Linked DNA regions of Homo sapiens: region 2 is linked to region 1. Evidence: fine-mapped expression QTL. A gene starts in region 1. The other region holds a variant in brackets. All regions are shown on one strand. Distances are between the middles of the regions.

Region 1 (5,367 bases):
TGAACCAGAGTGAGCACATGCCCAGCAAGAGGCTGGCACTACCCAGCAGGTAGCCCACCAGCCCAGAAGTAGCATGGTATAGCTTGAGCTTCGCCAGGGGCCATCGGGGCAGCAGCTTGGGGTAGAGCAGCCCCACCCCACCTGAGCACTGCAGCCCTGCCCACAGCACAGCCAGCAGCCCTGCCTGCCCATGCCGCGTAACCAGGTGGGCTTTGCCAAGCTGCTCTTTGTGGAGGATGACAAGGCCGAGGCCCAGCAGTGCACACAGCAGGGCCAGCAGCTGCAGCACCCAGTGGCAGCGTGCTCGGCCTTTCCGTGAGAGGGAGTGCAGCAGCGAACTCTCAGGAGAAAACACCAGTAGTGCCTCGGTCATCAGGAAGGAGAACTGAGGAAACAGGGGATGGGAAGCTCAAGTGAGGGTGCTGCCCCAGAAGAGGAGAAGAGGGCTTTATGTAACCCTTAGCTGCCAGTGAGTCTGGGCTGATTCCCCTTTTTCTTTCTCTCCCCACTGACAAGACTATCCATTTGGTGGGGCAAGAGTGGAAAACCCCATCTGGGATGATATATGTGCCCTGAATAATCTCCACACTTCCTCCTAGGTGCCAGTCTGAAATGTCATCTGTCGTATGTTACCAAGCAAACACAGGGTTTGAGATGTGGCAGTTATAAATGATTCACAAGCTTTGTTTCCCTAACGTGGGGCTGGATACAATTTCTTGGCAAGAGCTGGCCACATGGGTGCACTGTTTCAGGGAAAGTTAGGTGCATCACCAGAAATTAAAGTAAAAAGGGACAGAGGTACATCCAAATGCAATGTCTCAGCTTTCTGCCTAGAGGTGGGTGAAGCCTCATTGTGCTTAGACAAATCTTACCCATTTGACCTGGGTCCTGGGTCTTCATTACTCTGATTCAAGTCTCTTTTTTTTTTTTTTTTTTTTTTTGGAGATAGTCTCTCTCTGTCACCCAGGCTGGAGTGCAGTGGCCTGATCTCGGCTCACTGCAATCTCCGCCTTCCGGGTTCAAGCAATTCTCCTGCCTCAGGCTCCTGAGTAACTGGGATTACAGGCACCTGCCACCACACCCAGCTAATTTTTGGTTTTTTGGGGGGTTTTTTTGTTTTTGGGTTTTTTTTTTTTTTTGGGACAGAGCCTCGCTCTGTCGCCTAGGTTAGAGGTTAGAGTGCAGTGGCGCAATCTTGGCTCACTGCAACCTCCGTCTCCTGGGTTCATGCGATTCTCCTGCCTCAGCCTCCCGAGTAGCTGGGACTACAGGCGCGTGCCACCATGCCCGGCTAATTTTTTGTATTTTTAGTAGAGACGGGGTTTCACCATGTTGGCCAAGATGGTCTCGATCTCCTGACCTCAGGTGATGTGCCCGCCTCGGCCTCTAAGTGCTGGGATTACAGGCATGAGCCACCGTGCCCAGCCTCAAGTCTGAAATATATACCATGGGCAGGAGTAGTTGGAGCATGCAACTCTTCCAAACAGATATTAAATGTGGACAAAGATTCAGAGGCTGCCAGGGCCACCAACCATGCCCATGCTCCCACCCCTAAGAACTGCCCAGGCCCACTACTTACAGCCAAAGACATAAGCACCGGGTGCCAGGAGAACAGGCCTGGAATGAGAAGAGGAGGCCTCATGGGGCTGAGGCAAGAAGAAACCAGCCATACCAATCCTTAAGGGTTGAGGAATACCAGCAGCCCATCACCCAAGGAGGTGCTGCCAAACTGTGAGCCCCTTCTTGCTCTGCAACAAGCTGACCCCACACCTATCCTCTCTTCCTGGCCTCTTCCTGGATCAGAGGCCATGCTTTGCCACTCCTCTGGCAGTCCTCCCTCCTTCCCTTACACCTCCTGAGAGGCAGCCAAATGGAGCACCCAGAGAAGGAAAGACAAACCAGGAATTCTGTGTGCCCTGGCCATACCTACCTGCTCCACCTCACTCATCGCTCCAGCACAGAATTCCCTCAACCAGCCAGGCCTGTTCCCGGAAGTCCCACTGCCCTTCCTCCCCAGGAACAGTGGCCCTTCCCTTCCCAGAAGTCAGCTATGAATTCTACTTACTGGAGCCAGGCCTGGCAAGCACAGCCACAAAGATGGTAAAGCCCAGGGCCACAAGGTGGGCGGCAGCGCCAGAAGCAGTACGCAGAGCTCGGTAGATGTGTGACTCGGTCTCCGCAGAAAGGGCCATCGTCAGCCGTGCTAGTGGTTGTAGCCTGAAAGCATAGTAGCGTGGGCCAGGATCTCAGGTGCCCACTGTTCACTCCTCACTGGAGAAAAGGCTGCAAGGCAGGAATGCCACCCTCTTCCAATAAGTTATGGTAGGAAAGAACAGTACCAAGACCAGCACCAGGAATGGTCACAACATGCCAGTCGACGGCCGGCGGCCTGTCAACGTGTACCCATGTCTGAACTGGTACCAATCGCTGGCCCGCCTTCCAGGTAGGAGGCGCAAAGCCATGTAAGACTACAAATCCCAGCGTGTACCACGCCGTCGCCGGCAGTAGAGCCAGCTGGGAGGGCGCGGAGCACTATGGAAATTGTAGTTCCCTGCTGCGGTCCCAGTTACAGCGTGAATCCCTTAGCGCACCGCCTCCCCAAGTGCTGCCAGCATGCTGCCCCTCCACGCTAGGGACTTGCCTGCCTCTGCCGCAGCGCAGATCTGATGCGGTGGTTTCCTCCAAAGAAAGCGGGATACTCCGGGCCCTGCCGCGCGCACCGCCGCTCCGTCACGGAGCCGCTTTACTTCCGGGTGCGACGTCTACCCACCCAGGACTTCCTGGGACGAGCCGTCCCCCGCCCCAGCCACGCCTCTGAGTCGCGCTGCGCAGGCGCCATTGGGCAGAGGGATTGGCAAGCTTGCGTGCCCCAGCGACACAGGCCTCGAGGCTGTCTCTGACAAGTGTTCACAGGAGGTGGGGACGCCTCTGCGCGAGGAACGAGGAGCTACGGGCCTGGGCCCGGTTATTGCCATGGGCAGCGGCTGCCGCATCGAATGCATATTCTTCAGCGAGTTCCACCCCACGCTGGGACCCAAGATCACCTATCAGGTGCCACCCGGGCTCGCGGGACTGGGCGGGAAGAGGGACGTTCTCGAGAGCTCAACTGGCTGCCTGAAGGCAGTAGTTTCCCGTGCTGCACGCAGGCATGCTGCTTCATTCGCAGACAACTGTGAGGCTAGAGGATAGTCAGACCCAGGCCCCCGGCTCCCAATGTGGCAGGGAAGACATACGTCACATTGGCAGTGTTTGTAGGATATCGGGCTGTAGGGATCCGGTTGGGGGGTTCCAGGTCCCACAGAAGGTGAGTTGGGTGACCCATGAGTATCCCTGAACTGAGTGAAGAGTAAATGATGCATAGGAAGTTTAGGTAAGGCAGGAGAAAGTGTTCCAGGTAGAGGGAACAGCATATGCAGAAGCCAGGAAGGAGGTGAGATCATAGCGTATGTTTGGAAACAGAAAGAAGTAATAGGCCTGAGTGGATGGGAGAGAGGGGAACGCTGGAGAAGAGGACTTGGGCTTGGGGGGCATGAGGAGGTCACCATTTGTACTACACCCAGTACAGATGTCCACTGAGGGGCCCATTGCCACTCCCCTCCCCAGGTCCCTGAAGACTTCATCTCCCGAGAGCTGTTTGACACAGTCCAAGTGTACATCATCACCAAGCCAGAGCTGCAGAACAAGCTTATCACTGTGTGAGACCCTAGCTCGGGGTGAGCGGTGGGTGGCAGGGGTTGTCCCAGGAGGAGGAAGGGACAGGCTTGGGGGCCTGACTGTGTTCCAATTATCCAGCACAGCTATGGAAAAGAAGCTGATCGGCTGTCCTGTGTGCATCGAACACAAGAAGTACAGCCGCAATGCTCTCCTCTTCAACCTGGGCTTCGTGTGTGATGCCCAGGCCAAGACCTGCGCCCTCGAGCCCATTGTTAAAAAGCTGGCTGGCTATCTGACCACACTAGAGGTCTGCAATGAGATGGGCTTGGGTTTACCGACAGGCAGAGTTGGGGAAGGTGTTCCCATGTCTCCAAAGTCCCCCAAACCTGGGACCCTGCAAACCAGCTCAGGACTCAGGGCAGCCAACCAGCCAGGGGTCCTGGGATGTGCCCACCATGCTTTCCATGCTCTGTCTAGCTAGAGAGCAGCTTCGTGTCCATGGAGGAGAGCAAGCAGAAGTTGGTGCCCATCATGACCATCTTGCTGGAGGAGCTAAATGCCTCAGGCCGGTGCACTCTGCCCATTGGTATGGCCAGCCTCTGCAAGGACAGCAGAGGGGTAGAGGAGAGATGGGAAAGTGAACCCAGCTAGTCAGGGAGAAGGGCAAGACTCATGAACACATTGGTGGGCAGGAAATAGCCATGGGCTGAGGTGCCCATGTCCAGGGTCCAATGCATGATGGAGCTGGGACTGGGGGTAGGGGGAAAGCAGAGCTCTCCAGCTCTGCCCCTTGGGCAATTCCTTCCCCTTTGTGGGCCTCCGTTTCTCACTCCATAAAAAGAGAAAGATTAGCCCTACCCAGAGGCACCTGCTTGCCCCAAGGGATGCTGGGAGGCCTGGATGGTAATTGAGGACCTCTTGGAAGAAGTGGCACTGAGGATATGGATGGGGCCCCCTGCAGATGAGTCCAACACCATCCACTTGAAGGTGATTGAGCAGCGGCCAGACCCTCCGGTGGCCCAGGAGTATGATGTACCTGTCTTTACCAAAGACAAGGAGGATTTCTTCAACTCACAGTGGGACCTCACTACACAACAAGTATGCCATCCCTCCCTGGGTATCATCACCTGGGGCTGGCCACAGCCCTGGCCTCATCCTGTTTCTTCTGACCTTGTCCCACTCTGCCCAGATCCTGCCCTACATTGATGGGTTCCGCCACATCCAGAAGATTTCAGCAGAGGCAGATGTGGAGCTCAACCTGGTGCGCATTGCTATCCAGAACCTGCTGTGAGTGGGCCTACAGTCATACCTGGGACAAGGTCACCAGCCAGGGAAGACCTCAGGGGCCCTGGGTGTGAGGGTTGGGAAGGCATGGTCCTCAGAAGCTGAGCACAGCTCTCTCTCTCAGGTACTACGGCGTTGTGACACTGGTGTCCATCCTCCAGGTAGGTGAGTTGGGTTTGGTTAAGTGGAGAGTGGATCATGTGGCTGGACCAGACCAGGGCTGTGTCAGCTTCCCAAGCCCCTCACTCAGGCCCCTATGCCTTCTGCTACCCTCTAGTACTCCAATGTATACTGCCCAACGCCCAAGGTCCAGGACCTGGTAGATGACAAGTCCCTGCAAGAGGCATGTCTATCCTACGTGACCAAGCAAGGTAGTGGTGGGTTCTGGGGGAAGCCATCTTGGGGAGGGCAGGGCCACATGATGAGCTG
Region 2 (5,367 bases), 170 kb after region 1:
CGGCCTGGTACATGAGTGGGTGGCTGCGCATGAAGTTGATCACCTCATCAGGATAATCCTTGGTGGACTTCATAGATGGCGTGAAGGTTCCACCAGGGCACTGTGGACAGGTGGCGAGTGTCAGTCCCAGGCTGCCTGGGCAGGGCAGGCTGGAGCCATTAGCTTCAGAAGAGGCCGCTGCACTGTCTGTCCCCACTACCTCAACCTGCTCCTCTCCCCAAACCCGCTCTCCAAGTTTCTGCCCTGCACCTGACCTCTACAGGTCCTGCTCTGGCCAAGGTCCCAGGTGGCCAAATGCCACAGCCACCTCCCTGGCCTCAGGTGCCATGACCTCGTGGCAGCATTTGGCCAAGCGGACCACTCCCTTCCATGTCCCCCTCCCCACCCCTGTCATCTCCTTCCTCTCTGGTTGTTCCTAGGGTCTCACCCGTCTCCCTCCTGCACAGCTGGACTGCAGGCCCCGACGTCCTTGTCACACACCAGGCTCACTCTCCTCCTTCCTGAAGCTGTCCCCTGAACCTGGGCTCAGCCTGCCCCCCGTCATGGCCAGCTTACCTCTGGCCCATCCTTCTGACTCCAGGTTACCTCTGGAGGGAAGCTTCCCCTGTCCCCCACTGAGACCAGCTTCTCCAGCCCAGTCCTGACTACATGGAGTCAGAACTGCATTGGACCAGATCCGCTGCTCTCCTGCTTAGGCTCCCACATCAGCCGGTGTCACATCAAGATAAAGTGACATGCCTCTGTGACCTCTGAGACCCTGCCTGAGGCCTGGCCCTGCCCCTCCCCAGCTCTTTGCCTCCTGTTCCTCAGCTGAGCCAACCTCCAGCCTGCCTCCAGCACCTGCAGGGAAGACGCTTCCCCCCAACCTTCAGCTCCCAAACAGCCCCACAGAGGACCCTCTGAGGAGCAGCCGACCACGCCCAACCCACCATCTTTGTCCCAGAATCCCATCTGGGCTCCTCCACAGCTTGACACTGTGTGTGAAGGCCCGTCTGTGTGTGCATTACAGCTCACCGCCTCCGCTGGCTGGGAGGGCCATGATGGTGGGGCCCATGTTGCAAAGAGCCTGACCCAGAGGCCTCTTAGAAGAAGAGAAAGGGGAGAGGCAGGATGAGTGGGGTCCTTACCGTGCCCGGCCGTGGGTAGGGCATCTTCCCTGAGAAGGGCATCCACTGGTAGTTGGGCCCCTCTTTGTGGGCAAAGGGCCCGTTGAAGACCATGCGAATATCAGCCATGGAGTAGACACACACGGCAGAGCCTCGGAACACGGAGCTGTGGGCATGGCAGGCGCTGCTGAGCAGGACAGACCCTCCACCTAGGGCCCCTCCCCAAACTGCCCCCTCCCCACAGCTCGCCACCGGGCTGGGGTTCTCCACGAGTTACAATCCCCCAACGGGGCCACTCCCTGCCACTGCTGGCCCTGACCCCAGCCTCACCCAGAGGAGGTAAAGACAGCGTAAATGACAGGGTTCCTCACGTCCTGGGTCTGCTGGACAAACACGTCCTCTGGGGACAGAGGGAGAAGGTGTTGGAGGGTGCCATGGGCGGGAGCCCCTGGGCCCCACCCACTCCTGCACAGGGGAGGGGGCCCACCAAAGGCACCCTGATCGCCCATCCCGCCTCTATCCCTCTTGCTGTAGCCAGAGCACCCTGCCTGCCTGCTGGGCACTCACGGAGCTCATCAAAGTGAGTCTCAATGCCATCCTCGCCCGGGACAGAGCAGACGAGCCGCGCCTTCAGGAATGTGCTCCACTTGTTGACCAGGCAACAGTGACCACCGTCATCGTTCTGGGGGGTGGGGCAAGAGGCCGGGTCAGATCAGCTCTTGACCCCAAGCCCTGGCTGGAGCAGGGCTGATGAAGCCAGAACTGGTGGAAGGGGCAGCCTGGTGGCTCTGCCAATGCATACCAGGCAAATGCGCCCGATGCGGGCGTACACCGCGGGGCTCTGCGGCGCCTCTGCCGACCGCTCACGGAAGAAGAAGTAAAGCTTATCATCATTGCGCTCCGCACTGTCAGGAATGAGCTCAGCATGGATGAACGACGGGTCTGCAGGTGGCAGGGGTCAGCTGGGTGAGCCCCTACTCTGATGGTGCCCCTGATGTTCTCCAACAGAATCCCCAGCCAGGTGCAAGAACACCCCCAACTCCTCTCCAGATAAGAAACTACCCCTGCCCCAGGTAGTCATAGGCTAAACATGTCCCCACTTCCCCCACATGTGCTTCTTTACGACCTCCTTGCC[G/A]CATCCCAGACACATGGCCACGGAAGGGCTCCTGGGGCTGCGCTTACCGTTCAGCCACCGGGAGTTGTACTGATCCGTGCGCATGGCTGTCTGCTTTCCAAGTGTGCGGAAGATGGCTGCATCAGTGCCCATAAAATCGATGTACACACCAGCATAGAGCTCCTCATCTGTGGGTAGGCCAGTGGGTCAGTTGGGGGGCTGCTGTTTGCTAGGGCCAGGGCACAGCTCAGATGACTTCCAGGGCAGGGCCTTATCTCCCCGCTCAGGCTCCCTGGGGCATGATCCTATCTCCAGTGGAGTGCTGGTCAGTGTTTCACCACTGGCTCTGGGAGGGTTGGGATTAGTAACTATCAGCTCTGATTAGTAGCAATAGCCCATTTCTGTGGTGTGAATACTCCTGCCACAACTAATTTCAAGCTACCAACCTGAGGTCACTGAAAGCAAAATCAGGAAGAGCTGCCAACACCACTGTACAGTATTTCTACCCCACAGACACAACAAATGTAAATCACCTCAAGAGCATAGCTAATAGACCAGCTGCAGTGGCTCATGCCTATAATCCCAGCACTTTGGGAGGCCCAGGTGGGTGGATCATTTGAGGGCAGGAGCTGGAAGCCAGCCTGGCCAAGATGGTGAAACCCTACCTATACTAAAATACAGAAATTTTCTGGGCATGGTGGCAGGTGCCTGTAATCCCAGCTACACGGGAGGCTGAGGCAGGAGAATTGCTTGAACCAGGGAGGCGGAGGTTGCAGTGAGCGAGATCATGCCACTGCACTCCAGCCTGGGCAACAGAGCAAGGCTCCATCTTAAAAAAAAAAAAAGAGGCCGGGCATGGTGGCTTATGCCTCCTGTAATCCCAGCACTTTGGGAGGCCAAGGCTGGCAGATCATGAGGTCAAGAGATCGAGACCATCCTGGCCAATGTGGTGAAACCCTGTTTCTACTAAAAATACAAAAAAATTAGCTGAGCGTGGTGGTGCACGCATGTAGTCCCAGCTACTCAGGAGGCTGAGGCAGGAAGATCCCTTAAACCTGGGAGGCGGAAGTTGTAGTGAGCCGAGATCGCACCACTGCACTCCAGCCTGGTGACACAGTGAGACAACCGTCTCAAAAAGCAGGAACAAAAATAAAAAAAAAAAACACAAAAAAACAAAAAAAGAGCATAGCTAACAATAAAGTGTAGTGAAAGAATTAGGAAGCATATGCACACCTCAGTTTACTGGGCTTTGTGCACTGCAAATACTGCATTTTTTACAGAAGGAAGGTTTGTGGCAACCCTGTGTCAAGCAAGTCTGTTAGCACCATTTTTTCAACAGCATATGCTTACTTTGTGTCTCTGTGTCTGTGTCACAGTTTGGTAATTCTTCTTTTTTTTTTTTTTTGAGATGGAGTCTTGCTCTGTCACCCAGGCTAGAGTGCAGTGGCACCATCTCAGCTCACTACAACCTCCACCTCCCAGGCTCAAGCAACTCTCTTGCCTCAGCCTCCCAAGTAGCTGGGACTACAGGTGCCCACCACTACATCTGGCTAATTTTTGTATTTTTAGTAGAGACGGGGTTTCACCATGTTGGCCAGGCTGGTCTCGAACTCCTGACCTCAGGTGATCCACCTGCCTCGGCCTCCCAAAGGGCTGGGATTACAGGCATGAGCCACCGCGCCTTGCCTACATTTTGGTGATTCTTGCAATATTTCAAACTGTCTGTTATGGTGATCTGTGATCAGTGATCTTTGATGTTACTATTGCAATTATTTCGGGGCACCGTGAACCTCACCCATATAAAACAGTGAACTTAATCGATAAATGCTGTGTGTGTTCTGACTGCTCCACTTACTGGCCATTCTCCCATCTCTCTCCCTCTTCTTGGGCCTCTCCATTCTCTGGGACACAGCAATATTAAAATTAGATCAATTAATAATCCCACAATGGCCTCTAAGTGTTCAAGTGAAAGGAAGAGTCATATTATCTCTCACTTTAAGTCAAAAGCTAGAAATGGGCCAGGTGCAGTGGCTCATGCCTGTAATCCTAGCACTTTGGGAGGCTGAGGCAGGGGATCACTTGAGGTCAGGAGACCAGCCTGGCCAACATGGCATAACCCACTTCTACTAAAAATATAAAAATTAGCCAGAGGTGGTGGTGGGCGCCTATGATCCCAGCTACTTGGGAGGCTGCGGCAGGAAAATCACTTGAACCGGGGAGCAGGGAGTCGGGGGGTGGAGGTTGCAGTGAGCCAAGATCATGCCACTTCACTCTAGCCTGGGGGACAGAGTGTAACTCTGTCAAAAAATAAACAAACAAATAAAAAAAAACAAAAAAGCTAGAAATGATTAAGCTTAGTACGGAAAGCATGTTGAAAGCTGAGATAGGTCCCAAACTAGGCTGCTAGCACTAGTTAGCCAAGTTGTGAATGCAAAGGAAAAGTTCTTGAAGGAAATTAGAAGGGCTATTCCAGTAAACACACAAATGATAAGAAAGTGAAACAGCCTTATCACTGATATGGTGAAAGTTTTACTGGTTTACGTGGAAGATCAAACCAGCCACAACATTCCTTTAAGCCAAAGTCTAATCCAGAGCAAAGCCCTAACTGTCTTCAATTCTATGAAGGCTGAGAGAAGAGAGGAAGCTGGAGAAGAAAGGTTTGAAACCAGCGGAGGCTGGTTCATGAGGTTTAAGGAAAGCAGCCATCTCCAAAACATAAACATGCAAGGTGAAGTAGCAAGTGCTGATGGAGAAGCTGCAGCAAGTTTTCCAGAAGATTTAGATAAGATCATGGATGAAGGGAGCTACACTAAACACGATTTTCAATGCAGATAAAACAGCCTTCTGGCCAGGGCCAGTGGCTTACACCTCTTATCCCAGCATTTTGGGAGGCGGAGGTGGGAGGAACACTTTAGGTCAGGAGTTCAAGACCAGCCTGGTCAACATGGCGAGACGCTTTCTCTACTAATAATACAAAAATTAGCCGGGCATGGTGGCATGCGCCTGTAATCCCAGCTACTTGGGAGGCTGAGGCAGGAGAATCGCTTGAACCCAGGAGGCAGGGGTTGTGGTAAGCCAAGATGGTGCCACTGCACTCCAGCCTGGGAAATACGGCAAGACTCCATCTCAAAAAAAAAAAAAAAGAAA

Evidence for each region.
Region 2: its variant is fine-mapped to the expression of CYB561D2 in blood mononuclear cells (TOPMed, PIP above 0.99).

What each region holds. Positions count from the first base shown.
Region 1 is chr3:50,348,259-50,353,625 of GRCh38, reverse strand. It overlaps CYB561D2 (cytochrome b561 family member D2), which reads right to left and starts at 2,764. Exons shown (of 4, transcript NM_001291284.2): 1 at 2,642-2,764; 2 at 2,066-2,217; 3 at 1,580-1,617; 4 at 1-385. The coding sequence starts at 2,192. It overlaps NPRL2 (NPR2 like, GATOR1 complex subunit), which reads left to right and starts at 2,851. Exons shown (of 11, transcript NM_006545.5): 1 at 2,851-3,051; 2 at 3,604-3,695; 3 at 3,793-3,961; 4 at 4,132-4,240; 5 at 4,616-4,752; 6 at 4,844-4,941; 7 at 5,063-5,099; 8 at 5,216-5,309. The coding sequence starts at 2,974. LOC127898564 (CYB561D2-LOC101928965) reads right to left here and starts at 2,764. Exons shown (of 5, transcript NR_183066.1): 1 at 2,642-2,764; 2 at 2,066-2,217. RefSeq lists an enhancer at 2,590-2,809.
Region 2 is chr3:50,179,325-50,184,691 of GRCh38, reverse strand. SEMA3F (semaphorin 3F) reads right to left here. Exons shown (of 19, transcript NM_004186.5): 8 at 2,289-2,408; 9 at 1,909-2,048; 10 at 1,674-1,788; 11 at 1,437-1,506; 12 at 1,128-1,272; 13 at 1-100. Among named protein-coding and RNA genes, the nearest start is that of GNAT1, 9.6 kb to the left of the region's middle. The variant G/A (reference allele first, on the strand shown) is at 2,242.